Regions from separate parts of the Homo sapiens genome. Here region 2 is linked to region 1. A link means that fine-mapping ties the variant in region 1 to the plasma level of a protein whose gene starts in the linked region. Region 1 holds a variant in brackets. A gene starts in the other region. All regions are shown on their forward strands. Region 1 overlaps IFITM3-AS1 (IFITM3 antisense RNA 1). Region 2 holds the start of FAP (fibroblast activation protein alpha).

The links. PIP is the chance, under the fine-mapping model, that this variant and not a neighbour inherited with it causes the effect. Protein levels are from antibody-based Olink assays in UK Biobank. Linkage for the fine-mapping came from a reference panel and not from the study's own genotypes, which makes the PIPs less certain.
Region 2: it holds the start of FAP, and the variant in region 1 is fine-mapped to the plasma level of the FAP protein (UK Biobank, PIP 0.94).

Annotation. Positions count from the first base shown.
Region 1 is chr11:322,925-331,257 of GRCh38, forward strand. IFITM3-AS1 (IFITM3 antisense RNA 1) reads left to right here. Exons shown (of 5, transcript XR_007062540.1): 2 at 1,651-4,704; 3 at 7,059-8,333. Among named protein-coding and RNA genes, the nearest start is that of IFITM3, 6.2 kb to the left of the region's middle. RefSeq lists enhancers at 3,573-3,712, 4,133-4,502, 4,563-4,612, 8,223-8,322. The variant G/C (reference allele first, on the strand shown) is at 3,460.
Region 2 is chr2:162,239,344-162,247,676 of GRCh38, forward strand. It overlaps FAP (fibroblast activation protein alpha), which reads right to left and starts at 4,102. Exons shown (of 26, transcript NM_004460.5): 1 at 3,979-4,102; 2 at 3,565-3,649. The coding sequence starts at 3,984. It overlaps LOC105373724 (a long non-coding RNA gene), which reads left to right and starts at 6,774. Exons shown (of 4, transcript XR_923544.3): 1 at 6,774-6,828.

The sequences.
Region 1 (8,333 bases):
CTCATTCCCTTCCCCTCTGAGGCCTTTTATTGTTATTATTTATTTTATTTATTTATTTTTTTGAGTCGGAGTCTTGCTCTGTCGCCCAGGCTGGAGTGCAGTGGCACGATCTCGGCTCACTGCAAGCTCCGCCTCCCAGGTTCACGCCATTCTCCTGCCTCAGCCTCCTGAGTAGCTGGGACTACAGGCGTCTGCCACCACACCCGGCTGACTTTTTGTGTTTGTAGTAGAGACGGGGTTTCACGTGTTAGCCAGGATGGTCTCGATCTCCTGACCTCATGATCCGCCCGCCTCGGCCTCCCAAAGGGCTGGGATTACAGGCGTGAGCCACCGCGCCCAGCTCTTGACAAAATTTCTTTAGCAGCTGCTTGAGTGTCCAGTTCATGCATTCCACTTTACCTGAGCTCTGCAGCCTGTAAGCTGTATGTAATTTCCACTTTATTTTTAATAATCAAGTTAAGTCCTGAACTATTTCAGCCATAAATATTGGGCTATTGTCTGATCTTAGAGTTAGAGGCAGTCCAAATCTGGGAATAATGTCTCTTAACAACACCTTGGTTACTTCTAGTGCCTTCTCTGTCCGGGTGGGGAAGGCCTCAACCTCCTGAAAAGGTGCAAATGAACACCCACGTGCACTGATAACCCCCCTCTCAGGGTACTTCCTCGAAGTCCGTACCACAGTTTTTCACAGGGTATGGCTGCCTGGCTCCTGTTTCCTGAACTCCTGGGGGCCGAGTAGGCCCTTGTCATGCATTGTTCTGAGCACGAATTTAACACCATTTGTTTACAAATGGCTCGAGTAATAGCAGTGAGCCATGGCACATAGAAATGATGCCTTAACAGGGCCAGGCGCGGTGGCTCACGCCTGTAATCCCAGCACTTTGGGAGGCCGAGGTGGGCGGATCACAAGGTCGGGAGATCGAGACTAACACGTGAAACCCCGTCTCTACTAAAAATACAAAAAAAATTAGCCGGGTGTGGTGGCGGGCACCTGTGGTCCCAGCTACATGGGAGGCTGAGGCAGGAGAATGGCGTGAACCTGGGAGGCGGAGCTTGCAGTGAGCCGAGATCACGCCACAGCACTCCAGCCTGGGGGATAGAGCGAGACTCTGTCTCAAAAAAAAAAAAAAAAGAAATGATGCCTTAATAACGTCTTTAGTGCTGGTTTTTTGGGTTTTTTTTCCAGTGGAACTGTTTTACAAATCTGAGGGCCACCATTCCAGGTATGGCTAGCCTCCCGTTGGAAAATTTTTACCATCTTTCTTCAATGTAGTTCTTATTCTTGTGGGCAAACCAAGACTTTTCGTTTGGAGGGGACCTTGGGATCCCCAGGAGGGGAATCTCCGGGAGCGGGAGGCATAGCTAAGGCTTCCTCTCTAGAAGGTGGAGTTGTCGTTGCAGCCCGTTTGCCTCTTCGTCTGCCTTTCTGCTTTGCTGCTTTTCGGGGCCTCCTGCAGCGCATCACTGCCACCTCTTCCAGGGCCCACACAGCGTTTAACAGAGGTGGAATTTCCTCCTTATACTTTGTTTTTTCACTTCCAGCCGTTAAAAGTCTTTTATTCTTTGTAAACAGCCTCATGAACATGCAAAGTGGCAGAAGCATATTTGGAATCTGTGTAAATACTTGCCTTCTGCTCTTTTCCTAGCCAGAGAGCTCTTGTCAGAGCTATTAGCTCTGCTTTCTAAGCAGAAGTTTCTGCAGACAGAGACGGTACCTCTACTGCTGAGTCCAAAGTCACCGCGGCATACCCAGCTCGGCAGACTCCCCTTAGTACGAAACTGCTTCCATCAGTAAAATATTCAATGTCCAGGTCCCCGAGGGGCCAATCTGTTAAATCTTTCCAGCTTGAGAACACTTTATCTACCACGTCCACACAGCAATGAAGGGGACTTCCTGTGTAGGGTCCAGCCCTACGGGGGCTTAGCGGGTGTTCTCCCCGTGTGCAGAGACAAGAGATCGTAAGAAATAAAGACACAAGACAAACAGATAAAGAGAAAACAGCTGGGCCCAGGGGACCACTACCACCAAGACATGGAGACCGCTAGTGGCTCCGAACGGCTGGCTGCGCTGATATTTATTGAATACAAGACAAGGGGGCAGGGTACGGACGGTGAGTCGTCCAAGTAATTGATAAGGTGAAGCAAGTCACGTGATCATAGGACAGGGGGCCTTTCCCTCTTAGGTAGCCGAGCAGAGAGAGAAGGCAGCATACGTCAGCGTTTTCTTCTATGCACTTATAAGAACAATCAAAGACTTTAAGACTTTCACTATTTCTTCTACCGCTATCTACTACGAACTTCAAAGAGGAACCAGGAGTACGGGAAGAGCATGAAAGTGGACAAGGAGTGTGATCATTCAAGCACCACAGGGAGGGGGTTAGGCCTCCGGATGACTGCAGGCCAGGCCTGGAGAATATCCAGCCTCCCACAAGAAGCTGGCGGAGCAGAGTGTTCCCTGACTCCTCCAAGGAAAGGAGACTCCCTTTCACGGTCGGCTAAGTAACGGGTGCCTTCCCAGGCACTGGCGTTACCGCTTGACCAAGGAGCCCTCAAGCGGCCCTTATGTTGGCGTGACAGAGGGCTCACCTCTTGCCTTCTAGGTCACTTCTCACAACGTCCCTTCAGCACCTGACCCTATACCCGCCGGTTATTCCCAGGTTATATAGTAATGGAACAAAGAGTAATATTAAAAGCTAATGATTAATAATGTTTATAATAACGATTGATAATTGTCCGTGATCATCTCTATATCTAATTTGTGTTATGACTCTATGACTGTTCTTATTCCATTTTCTTTATTATACTGAAACAGTTTGTGCCTTCAGTCTCTTGCCTGGGCACCTGGGTCATCCTCCACCCACAGCTGACTTCACACCGTGCTCTTCCTTGAGCATGTCTCAGGTTTCCGGGAAGCTGATGTTTTTGGGAGTGCAGAAGGCTTGGGAAGTGTGGTTCCTGGTCTCTTACGTGGCCGTCTGTGGAGTAGCGTCCGGACGCTGGGGTACCGTGGGAAGGGTGGTTCCCGGTCTCTTACGTGGCCGTCTGTGGAGTAGCGTCCGGACGCTGGGGTACCGTGGGAAGGGTGGTTCCTGGTCTCTTACGTGGCCGTCTGTGGAGTAACGTCCGGATGCTGGGGTACTGTCTCTGGCAGGGCTGTTTTCTCAGGCACCTTCTCCCACCTGGACTCAAGGGTTCTGCTTTCTTAGAAGTTTCTGTTTCCTGCTGTTTGGAAATTCGTGAATTGTGTGAGGTCTGAGGAGGGGGGTAACACATTTCTGAACGTGAAGTTATACATTGAGGGTGGGTAGAAGCACTGTGGGCTAAGGAGGCTTCTCTGCAGGACCCCATCAGGACGGTGTCAGGGCGTGTGGAAACACTGTAGGCTAAGTAAGCAGGCTTCTCTGCAGGACCCCATCAGGACGGTGTCAGGGCGTGTGGAAAAACTGTAGGCTAAGTAAG[G/C]AGGCTTCTCTGCAGGACCCCATCAGGACGGTGTCAGGGCGGGTAGAAGCACTGTGGGCTAAGTAAGGAGTCTTCTCTGCAGGAGCCGCATCAGGACAGCGTCAGGTGACTCCAACCTCCTCTTGTAGGGGTGCCAGAGGCCCCTGTGCGCTTTACCAGGCCTGGGAGTCTCCTCTCCTCACCCCAGCTGCTGCAGGACCTCACTGTCTTGGTACAGGTCCCTGCCAGGCCCCAATGGGGCTTCCACACTCCAGGCCCCACAGGGAGCCCCTCAAGCCTTCGCCTCTCTCGTCACAGGCCTCCTCTGCTGAAATCTTCCCTTTTCTGGGGCTGCGGTCCTGCTCTATGTGGGTTCAGAGGCCTAAGCCTCCCCGTGTCTCCTGGTGCAGGTCAGAGACCCAGTGGCCACTGCTCCTGCCCCACAGCAGCCCTCCAGGCCCAGGACCGGGGACGACAGGGAGCACTGACTGAAGAGGAGGCTGTCTTTGGACACGGGGAGGATTCCAGGGCCTGTGGGGGCAGCTTCGGTGCTCAGGGCTCACACGTGTGACCCCCTCCTTCCGCTTTCCGGGGCCCCTTTGTTTTATAAAATGCCACAGAGGTCGAGGGGACATGAGGGTCAGGGGGGAGGGGGGTTCCTGGACTCGGGGCCACACCCAGTAGGGCTTGGGCAGGGCTCTAGGGCCCCACTGGCCAAAAGCTTCCTGAGATTACAGCAGTTTCCTCTTCCTGCCTCAGTGCCCCACGGACAGGGGGTGCGATCTGAGCAGAATGAGGTGACGTCACTGGGTCAGCGGCTCCTGTGGCATCTGGCCAAGGACAATGTGCTGAGAAGTTTCCCCTGAAAAAATCAGAAACAAAACTCACCTCAGGAGAGGCCCCTGCACCCTCCAAGAGGAAGTGGGAGTCACGTGAGGCTCGTCTTGATTGGGGTTCCTGGAGAGGAGGCCCCCTCTCCCCAGGTGGGGGCTCCTGTTTCCCCTGCTCTGCTCTGAGGTCCCCAGGGTCCAGTCCCCTCCCCACCCTATCCTGGAGCTTGTCAAGGCCACCAGAGACCTGCTCCCTGTGCCGTCTCAGACTGGACTCTGGGGTCTCCGGTGCCTCCTCTGATTCTGCACCTCGGTGCAGCCTCTGGCCTGGCTGCGCTCTGAGGAGCTCCCTGTGGCCACCGAGCCCTTGGAACGTGGCCAGTTCCATTCTCAAACTGCTGTGAGTGCAAAGCTCATGCTGGATTTTGAAGATTTGGTGAGAAAAAAAATTTCTTTGTAAAATGTCAGTATTTCATCAATAGTATATTTTGTTGATGATATGTTGAGAAACTATTTTGGATATGTTTGTTTAAGTAGATTGCTGGCCAGGCATGGTGGCTCACTCCTGTAATCCCAGCACTGGGAGGCCAAGGCAAGAGGATCGCTTGAGGCCGGGTGGTTGAGGCTGCCGTGAGCTGTAATGGTGCCACTGCCCTCCAGCATGGATGACAGAGACCCCACCTCTAAAAACAATTAATTAATTAAAATTAAATCAGTAAAAAATTTTTTTAATTAAAATTTTAAAAAATAGATTATTAAAACAAATATCACCCATTTACTTTTGCTTTTTTAGAAACATTGGTACTGGAAGATTTAGCATTGGGTGTGCAGGGCCCACCCTCTTCGCTCATGTCACTGGCCCCTTCCACTGGCGGCATTGCAGGGGGAGCCGCCGTGCATCCAGAAGTGAGGGTCCTGGCCTGGAGATCTGCTCCCGCAAGTCCCCCAGGACTCCGGCTTCCTCTCAGGGGTTCACTTCTTTCTTGAATTAGAGCTGGGTCTCCTGGCCACAAAGGAGCTGTATCTTTGAGGCTTGGAGCCTTCCCCAAATATGCCTCGTATGGCACGGGGCAGGCCTCTGGGCAGTGGGCAGCGGGGGCTCGCTGCTGCCAGTCCCTGACCCCCGCCTTGGTGTGAGTGCTTCAAGTGGCTTCCCCACTGCCGTTCAAACACGATAACTTCAGAAGGTGGCATTTGTACCTGACATCTTGGGAATCTTAAGACTTTTTCTAATGGTTTCCAAGGACAGGCTAATAATCAGAGAGATGAGAACAACCTGGTCATCATTAGGAAAACAAAATGTTCTCACTGCACAGGAAAATAAGGTTGATATTTCTGTGAACCTACTCAAATTAACACCCAATCAAAACCAATTTTTTTTTTTGAGATGGAATCTCACCCTTGTTACCCAGGCTGGAGTGCAATGGCGTGATCTCGGCTCACCGCAACCTCTGCCTCCCGGGTTCAAGCAATTCCCAGCCTCAGCCTCCCAAGTAGATGAGATTACAGGCATGAGCCACCACGCCCGGCTAATTTTGTACTTTTGGTAGAGACGGGATTTCTCCATGTTGGTCAGGCTGGTCTCGAACTCCCGACCTCAGGTGATCTGCCTGTCTCAGCCTCCCAAAGTGCTGGGATTACAGGTGTGTGCCACCATGCCTACCCACAAACTGATTTTTTAAAAATTTATCTAGATTGTAAAAAAATATATCTTCTTCTTTTTTTTTTTTTTTTTTTTCCTGAGACGGAGTCTCGCTCTGTCGTCCAGACTGGAGTGCAGTGGCGCAATCTCAGCTCACTGCAAGCTATGCCTCCCAGGTTCACACCATTCTCCTGCCTCAGCCTTCTGAGTAGCTGTGACTACAGGCACCCGCCACCACGCCTGGCTAATTTTTTGTATTTTTAGTACAGATAGAATTTCACCCTGTTAGCCAGGATGGTCTCAATCTCCTGACCTTGTGATCTGGCCGCCTCGGCCTCCCAAAGTGCTGGGATTACAGGTGTGAGCCACCGCGCCCGGCCTGTCTTCTTCTTCCTAAGTAAGTGAAGGAAATAATGTATACAGTGGTCCATTTCCAAGACAAAGTGCCTTAAATCAGCTTAGGTCAGCAAACTACAGAAGAAACAGGATATACTAGGCCCCTGCTTGGATAGCTGATGCCTTCTTGTCAGCCTTCTCCCTCCCCTTCTCCCTCCACTTAGTTGCCCTTACCCAAACCAGGGAAGTTTCGTCTAAGATAAAAGTTTACTAGCCTGCAAAATAGCTCGGTTTGTCTGTCCTTATCAGCCTGCCCAGCTACTTAGCTCATAAGTCAAATACGCAGAGCCCCTGGGCTGACTGGGATTGCAATGCATTGTGGGCTGCAACAAAATGCAGCAGGACAACCCAAAAGAAGACACCTAAAGCTGCTGCCCAACAACCAATGGGAAGACTGTGACCCCACAGTACTCAGCCTATGAGGATGCAGGGGAGGGGCCTGTGCACTGGGAGATAAATCGCTGGTTGTGACTGTGCTGTGAGTGCCTGCCCATCAGATAGATACCTGATCTTGCAAGACCGTCATCAAAAGTCTCACTTTTGCTGTCTTCTGCGTTTCTAAATCCATTCTTTGGGTTCGGGCGAGTGAGTTTGTTTCTCACAGTAAGCTCTAGAACTTTGTGACTTAGCAGTTTAAGGAAAAAGCAAGTCTCTGTGGGGTCTCTCAATGGCCAAAAAATAGAGTGAGGAATAAATAGAGTTTTGTTTTGTTTTGTTTTGGTTTGTGGGTTTTGTTTCTTTGTTTGAAACAGGGTCTCACTCTGTCACCCAGGCTGAAGTGCAGTGGCACCATCACAGATCACTGCAGACTCCACCTCCTGGGCTCAAGCAATCCTCCTGTCTCAGCCTCCCGAGTAGCTGGAACTCCCAAGTAACACACACATTAGCATGCCCAGCTAATGTTTAAATTAGGGTTTTAATTCACAGAGAAATAAAGAGCATCTGAGCATTCATCTTCCACAAAAGCAATCTGAAATTGTCTCTGTAAGTGGGCGCCCTGTCTTTCTGCAGGCTCAGAGTGGAGAATGAGGTTGCATCTCAGGATGGCCACAGCGCCTTCCTTCCCAAGCCCTTTCTTCAGCAGCCGTGGTGGGAGCTGCAGCCGAAAAGCCCCTTTGGAGTTGCAGCTAGAGGGTGCCTTCCAGGAGCTGCTGGGCCAGCTTCACCAATGCCTGCAGACGGTCAGGACAGATTCAGAGAAGCTCTGGGTCAGAACGAGGGTGAAAAGCCCCTTCCTCGAGCTTCCGGTCGAACAGCCCCATGGGGGTGCCCTGACCTTCTTGCTCTAATGCAGCTGCTGTTCCCCGGGGCAGCGACTCCCCTTCTCTCCCTCCCAAGTGCGGCCCTGCCCTCTTCACAGGCACACACCCCACAGCACGTGCAGTGCCTCAAGGCGCCCGAGGTGCACGGGGAGGCCCATCAGTGCTGTTCCCCAAGCCTCCAGCTTTCTTGCTGGAATCTTTCTTTCCCACCCCTTTGCAGCTTGGCATGAGCTTGTCACTTGAGGTGGCCAGTGAGATGTTGTGGGCATGAGAGGTGGTGCCAAGAGATCAGGCGTGACTCCACCTCCCGTTCCCACCTCGGAGGCCTGGCAGCACACGCTGGGGGCTCCCCAACCTGGGCGGCTGGGCGAGGACGAGGCGCAGACCCCACACCTGCCACAGGCCCACACTGGAGGGAGTCAGCGGCTGAGGGTCGGGCCGTTCGTTACCACCGCACAGCCTGGCTCATCCTGGCTGACTCGGGGCAGTGCTGCCCGGGCCAGGCGGAGCAGGGAGGACGTGGTGGGGTGTTTGGAAGGCGGAGCAAGAACCTAATAAATGTGAGCCCTGGACTCTGAGGCCGGGCAGCGAATGTTCTGCGGGTGCTGTCTGCGGCCGGATGTGGGTTTTGGCATCATGAGCTCAGGAGAGAACTGGCCGGTGGGTGAGCAGGTGCGAAAGGAAACCGAGAAAACCCGGGGGGTACTTTGTGGGTTAAAAGAGGCAACTGCCTTTCCATCCTGACCAGCAGAAGGGAAGACTGCA
Region 2 (8,333 bases), not on the chromosome of region 1:
CCTTTTTTACTCTCACTCAGCCTTATTCTCCATTCCTCCACCCTTCAGCTTCTTATATCTTTCTTCTTTCCTTTTGTTTTGCTTTTGCCCTAGAGCCATCAGTGTTCTGTATGAGTGCTTCAGACACAAAAGTTTCTGAAACATTTGTTGTTTTTGGTTAAAAAAAAAAAGTTGGGGATAGGAACAGGGATGATATTCTGGGATAAAGGCTCTCTACTCTCGGAATTAAGACATTTTTGAAATTGAAATACATCACACAGAATGGAATAGTTGCTATTGTTGAGTGTAGAAGTACATATTCTCAACAATGGAAGAACACAGACACAAAATGCTATCATTTATGAAGTATTTACTACATGTTAGAAATTTTAGAAAAAAAATAACTAACATTTGTTGAGTATTTGTTCATCACCATGTGGGGCACTCTATACTCAAAAGAATCTGAAACGAGGTCAAATAGTTCCTATGATTTCTTTCTATAAGCCAAGGAGGAATGGTCCAGGTATTCAGAAAATATAAATCATGAATCAAGTTTGTGTAGAATTTACCTGCAAAATTCTGCAACCTCTGTAACTTTTCACTTCTAGTTTTTTGCTTTTGTAACCTCTGTTAAATCTCTTGAAGCAAGAAGGTCTTTATGTTTGTCTTTGGGGTGAACAAAAATAAGGGGAAGTCAAGGAGCTTAGTTTCCACTCTCAGCCTTGTTGCATATTCACAGACGAAGAGGGGTGATGCTTGTGAAGAAGAACCTCAAAAGAAAAAGTGAATGGAGGTAGGAGAGAGGAAAGGAGTCAGTTGAAGGGGTGTAAGCTGAAGGCAAGGACAACCTGGGAGTAAGGGGTAGAAATTCATGTGTGCTTCACACTTTGGCAAAACTAAAAAGGGAATATTTTACAAGTTTCGAAAAAAGTTTTTCCTTATAGTTAATATTTTGTAAGTGAGCTAAATGGATTTTCTCATTTCACTACTACATTTCATATTTGTTCTTATAATCCAGTTTAATTATTCCTAAACCCTTTTAATCCTGAAGCTGGTTCTCCTGGGATGGAAGAGCCTTTCTCTTTTTTCTTTCCTTTAGACGTGATGTGAAATAACACAAATCCTTCTCTGGTATCTGTGGTGCTGACCATGCATCTTTGGGTGCAGAAAGCACTGGATTCTTACTCCCCAACTTGCAGAGGGAATTCTAGACTGCTGCACCTCCATATCCTCAGCAACTGGCATGATGATGAGCAGGGAGTTAGTAGAACTAATACACTAATATGTAAATGAATGAATGAATGTTTCCTGAGTGTGGCTTTAAGTTTCTCAGAAGAAGACAGTTCATACACTGGTGCATAAAATTCTGGGCTGAGGATATGAGGGCACCTAAGGCAAATGTGAAGTAATGGGATTTCTGATGAATGTGAGAAAGAGGCTAAGTAGGAGCTCGCTTAGCTTTGAATTCTCTGTTCTTTTTACCCCTTCCTCCTTCCCTTTCCTGCCTTGCCATCTCAGATCCTATTCTCATAGGCACTGGGCAGATGTGAGAGTGAGGACTGGACCTGGCACTCCAGACGGGAGATGATTGATTGACCAGTGAGATGTGAGAAGAAAGGAGGAAAATTAGGAGGCCACCACGCCTAACTTCAGGGCTGCCTGTGGCACTGACTTCCCCGGGTCCTGCTCAGGAAAGTAGGGTAATGACTAGTGCCATTCACAAGCTGTTTAGCTGACATTCTGAGAAGTTATTCAGCAAATTTAGAAGAGAAAGAGAATGATATAATGAACCAAAAAACAACAGTTCTCACCTTATTTATGATTTTTCTATTTCTGAATGAGTACTCAAATTTCACTGAGTACTTGAGTTTAATTTGATTATTTCACCCTATCAAGAAATCACTTTATTCTTAGAATTTTCCTGTTAGTTGAAAATAGAATTGTATTATAAATTACATAGGACTTTTATACTATATATAGTTTACGACGTATATTTATATGTAAGCTATACATAACTAAACTTGGAAAGAGGGTAGGGATTGAGATTATATGTGATCACACAAATATCTGTGTATGTGTATCTCTATACATCATTTGTAAATATGTAAATATAATGCATTTCTTATTAGAAATTATAGCTTGAATTCCATAGTGAAATTCATCCTTCCCTATGGACATGGAGGCAAGTGCCCTATAAAATTAACAAACTTTTGTTCCAAGAACATTTATTTCTGAGGGTGCAGAGTATCAATTTCAAGGTTGAGTTTCTTTAAAAATCAGGAGCTAATTTTTAATGAATTAACATTCAAAGGATCTATATGACCTAATCCACTACCTGACAATTGCTGGTATGAGGGAAATGTGGCCCCAAGACCACTGAGTTCAGAGATGAGTCTGAAAACAATTTTAACATGAAAATTTATGAAAGATATGTACACACACTACATACCTCTCAACAGCCTAAGAAGAATCTTGTGCTGGCAGAGAGCAGAAACAAAGACTGAAATTAACACTGAAGATATCAGCTGACTTCATCTTATGGGTTAACCTATTCTATTTTGTAATTCTGTGAAAATCTCATGATTATTTTTAATTTTCGAAAACATTTTTCTATGTTCTTTTTAATAGCAACAGTCCAGTCATTCAGGACTCATACATTCTTTAGCTGAAGTTATTTTATTGATCTTCATTTACTATCAGTTAACTTTTAACCAAGATATTTCCCACATTTGTTATCATAAACTTTTAGTATTTATTAGTACAAATTTTTCCCCTTTCCTAGACACAAAGACATAAGACCTGTTATTACTGGATTTTTTTTCCATTTCAGAAGCTTGAGTTTCTCTTCATAAATATTTTCATAAAAAGCTATTTCCCTAATATCACTAGATTATCTATCAACATAGTCCTACTTTATATTTAAACTAGCTCTGATATCAGCCCATAGTACCTTCCAATTTTTAGCAAAGTGAGATCAGTGTCAATCTAAGCCTTTTTTGTAAAAGGATCCAATTTATGACTGATCAAAATGCTTGCTTAACAATGTTTGGTTTTCTAATTTGATGTGCAGTGCTACTACATCTAAAACAACAACTTTGCTTTTTCTATACAGCTATTCCTGAGATCTGTATTCTCAACTTCCTCCCTAAATTTTTGGAAAGACTATTTAGTAATAAAAAAAGTCCATAGATTCTGTTTTAACTTTTCCATTCTTACTCATTTTTACTTTCCACGAGACAAACCTAATAATGAAAAGCAATGTTAGTTAAAAATGTTGTTTCTAAAGGCCTGTCAAAGCTTGTATTTAGCATATATTTTTGGGGGTTGTGGGGGTGATGCAGCATAGTTCTTAGGTTTTTCTATTGCTGAAATAACACTGTAAATCTCTTCCTACCCATGCCTTAAATTCCTCAGTATTTCTGGTCTTGCACAACAACATATCTGTGAGCTTATATGTCTTCTTAGAAATAACAGACTTACTTTGGAACATAAGCACTTAGGAAATGTTCAACCACTTGTGATCTTGCATTAGTACATTTTCCAAGCTATTCTAGGCAGATAGAGCAAATCAGAGAAAGTTCTTACCTCTTGAAGGGCGTAAGACAATGCACATCACCAATAAGGCAAGCACAGCAGAGGTGGCAACTCCAAATACGATTTTTACCCAAGTCTACATAAAATAAAGAGAATTAGGCATACACACAGTTCCTGCTAAATAGTAGAAATGGCAAGATTTTGTTTACACCTAAATCCTTTTTCTCTCGCCCCACAAAGCTTTTGATTGTTTTCCACTGATCCGGCTATAATTGCTGGAATTCTTCCAGCTCTGCAAGGACAAATGTTTCTACAGTATATTTAGAACAATTTTCCAATCCCAACCCATTGAGGAAGTAAATACTTATGTACAAATCTTCACCTTCTAAACAATAGAAAACTCTGATCACGTTCAATCCAGCCAACCCTAATTTTTTAAGAATACTTGAGGTTGCTTATACTAACCTTCATTTTTCCAGATGTTTTTGAAAGTTAGCTAATTCTGTCTTCAGAGCGTGGGTCACTGGATCTGTGAAAACCGTTGAAAAGGACCAAGTCTGTCTTTGTAGTTGGAAGCTGAAGCCAGGACAAGGTTTTTTTCTTTCCACGGACTTTTGAATACCGTGCCAAGTTTCAAAAGATTTCTGTAAAATTAGAAACAGATTTTGGGGGCGTTCTTGGCCCTCAAATGAACTGTGAGTGACTCAAGGGAAGTTTTATAGCCTTCTCATCCTTGTAACTACACCAACATCTGCTTACGTTGACATACAGAGGTTTTTATTTTTTCTTTTTTACCAGTTCAGGTTTATGTTGCATTTTCTTCTAGAATTCACTGAAGGATCACTTTAGCAAGTCATTGGGTTTTGCATAACATTTTTATTTGCCACTAAAAGATGAATTTAAAATAATGAAACTTGCAGGTCTGTACATTAAACATATATCTACTTTTTAACAGAGGAAGAACATTGAAGCCACATAAGATTTTGTGAGAAATGTGCCATATAACTGCACTTTTTTTTCCTCTGGAAGATTATGAGGTATTGCAGACAGAAATGTTTTTCTTTCAGCACAATTTCTTTGTCCATATAGCACCATATGCACTTTCAGTAAATACAGAAGTTTAAAAATTCAACTGTCTAAACCCACGGCTGCTTTACTTTAAAGAAATAAAATGCCATCTGGTGAAATTTAGTATGGGTTAGGTGTGTATGCACAGGCTAGAAAGATGGAAAGATCAGTAAGAATAATTTACCAGCAGACCTTTGGAAGAATGGAAATGGCTTTACAAGAGTGGTATTTTTGCTTTCCTCTCAGAATATCTTCTGAGAGAGGAGAACATCTAGTAATTATAAAGATTTAAAAATAAATAAAAAAGCATCTGAAAAGAAAAGTAAATCTTATGTATAATTTCATTTTGGCTAAATCTACATAATTCCAAAGAAATTGGTCATCTTGACAGATTAGTAAAATGGTTGACTGAATTAAAAAAAATACACATACAACAGTTTCTTGGAGTGTTCTGTCTGTTTTAATGCAATTCACTTGGATAGATTTTGTGGTTCCACGTAAACACAGTTGTTAAATCTACTGTGTCCTTAATTTTTCCACTAATGGTTTTCTTTTTTCGAAGTTTATAATGTTCCCAACCTGATTAAAACACTTCATGGCAACCTTTCTTGGATTGTACATGAAAGGTAATGGGGAAATGTTACCAAAACATGTTGCTGTTTGCCTTAGTCAACTTCTCTGGCTACCACGGGACACTTTCTCCAGCAAAGAGCAGGACAGTGGCTTGTGAACTTCCTTTCAGACATTCTCCAGACATCCCTCCCTGAATTCCAGCCTTATGAAAATTCTGTTGAGGAAAATGAGTCATTAGGCACTTACTGGCAGAGAACTGTATTCCTGGTGGCTGGGGCTGGGCCCTCTCCTTTGCTGTTGGTGGAGTCACCTCTTTACAAAATGAAGTAATCATTAAGAGTAATATCCAAGGTGTGCTATACACTTGTAGGTATCTCCAAGTGATTGTGAAATCCTCAGATCTCAGATAAAAGCCAGCAGCCAGGTCCTGAATGAACTGTTTCTGTGTAAGTCCTCTCAGATTGATTGTCTTCTCTGGAACACACCGTGTTCTCAGAAGTTCTGCCCTAGCCTGCCAAAGCCCCAGAGTACACAGGCACTTTTTAGTGGGTGATTTCCAAGACTTTACATTGTAGAGAGAAACTATAATAAATTATTAGGGTGTAATTAAAAGACCATGCTGAGAGCATGTTAGCTCTAGCAATTAAGAATGCACTGACATGTGACTGGTCTGAGCACCACTTAGGATTCTATGACTGTGTGTGGGTGTCCACAAGATACTCATTTAATAGGCTCTATGAAGAGGTTGGAGTGCTTTAAGATACACTTAAGTTGCCACTATTAGTAAGGGTGGGAAATGATGAGAGTGAAACAATGTCTGTTTAAGTTTTTTTGTTTTTTCCTTGGAAGGTTGGGTGAGTCAAGCTGTAACTTCTGGAAAATTCTTACTAGTTTGAACTGTTTTAAGAAAAATGAGACTGACTGCAGAAATAAAGATGTCGAGTTTTTCCATCTGAATTCATGGTTTAGGGAGGTATTGTTTTTATAAAGTCACACATGTTCATTCGTTTGAGATAATGTGAATGTATTCTAATTTTCATCCAGACAAGAACTCTCATAAAATTTGGATTTTTAAAATATTGTAATATCTTTATTAGCTTTTTTTAATTTTGGAATCAAAATGAAAATACTTTTGTCAACTTTTAAAAAACATTTACGAAACTGACTCTTATTCCTACTTTATACAATTAGTTAACACCCCATCAACATTTTTGTTGAGAAAACAAAAATGAATCAGACACAGTCTGTGCCCTTAAGGAACTTACATTCTAGTATAAGTATGGCAGGTATGTTCTTAATGTTCTTACATACTTGTTTCCTTTTGCTTCCTAAAGCTCTTGTTCAGAAATAGCCTGAAGCTGAGTTTGTGTTCTGTAGAAAGAGTGTTCTCACTGGTTGGTGATTTCTTCATGGACCTGGGAAGAGGACTGGAAAGGGCACATACCACATGCATGTCATCCTTAGTTCAACCTTTGTTAGTTCTAACCTTTGTTAGTACTGAGACTTTTCTCAGAAAGCAACTCTGGGTCTATTAAAATGCTGCAAAACCAGAAAGGATGATGATTTGTCATGTAAAAATGTAAGGGCAGCAATTAGGAGAGTAGAGGCTCATCAACTGAGTTCTTTCCAGAGAGGGACCTTGTAAGGCTGACTTTGGAATATGACTGCATTCTGGTAAGCCCACTGGATAAGTGAGCTATAACATAAATCCTTAGGTTATAAGGAGGAGAGCTTACTAGAACTATTTATTAGTAGCCAATGTTTACCTGCCAAAAATGATTTTAATTTATATGTTTTCCCAGAAAACACATCCAGCTATGTATTTCTAGAGTCTGAAGGTAAGACCATGCTGAGAGCATAAGGATGTTATCTTTTTATTTTATGGTGGGGAGATGAAAGAGAGATGTGTTTATTAACCAAAAGCCATGACAAATTATTTAAGGACAAGTTACAAGGGGAATAAGGATACAAGTGCAGTAAACATAAGCCTGATTTTATACTCTTTAAAGTAAAAATTTGCTTCTAGAGAGCCTAACAGCTCCTAACATCCTACCCATTTGATTCCTCAGATTCAATAAACATTTATTGTTTACTGTTATCTACAAAGTGATTTTAATGCATTATTTCATCTGATCCATACCAAAACTCATTTTGATGATTAGGAAACAGCCTAGAAAAACTGGATAACTTGCCCAAGATTTTAACAGGACCCAGTGTTACCACCTTACATTGCTTCTTTGTGATACTTCCTAAAGTTTTATTCCAAAGTGATAAATTTTTTTTAAAATTATAATTGACATTTCACTGATTTGCTGTTGGGGGACACTTAAGGTTGTGAGGGTAAAATAATTAAGGCTAAAATATTAATGATGTTCACATCCTCAAAGTACTTTGTTACACATATCTCAAAAGAACACAATTTCACTCTACAAGGACTGTGTTCAAAATATTAATTTGTTTACAGTTTTTTTTTAATCGGGGTCTATTAATCCGATGATTATTTATATAGTGCCTGGGTTAAAAGCTCTTCCTCCAGGGACTTGCTTAAATGAAAGGATTCAACAAAATACCCATCGTCAAAGAGATTTTTGAGTTCCAAGCTAGAAAGAGTCCTGAGGTCTTCAAAGCTCAAAATAACTATCACATAGTTATAGATCTGGAAGAAGTGGCATAATATAGCATCAGTGGGAAATGATATAGCTCAAACTATTTTTTGAATCTGATCTCTTTTCTAAAACCACAATTGTTACATAAGGAAGAATATAAAGCCACATGCCTCCTAGTTTGTAATTGGCATCTACTACCTTCATAAATGTTATAATTAGATGTCAGTGTTTCATTATCCTATCATAATTAGGGCAAGTGCTCCTTGGAGACCCAAAGGGTTAACTATCAAAATGGGGTTAGAAAAGAAACAGAACAGAGACACAACCCATTTCTTTGAGTGCTGAGGACACAAAGACTCAGAAGATAAATCAGTGCTTCATTGTCATTTAAATAGGGAAATACTACATCTTTTTAGAAGTGGTTAACCAACAAGAAGACTGTTTAAATAGTATAAATAGAATGTGTAAGCACCTATAGACTAACATAACTTGTTAACACATATTGTTTTTTCACTAGCATTTTTAGATTAGAGAATATTACTACTACTAGTTCATGTCTATTGAATACTCTTA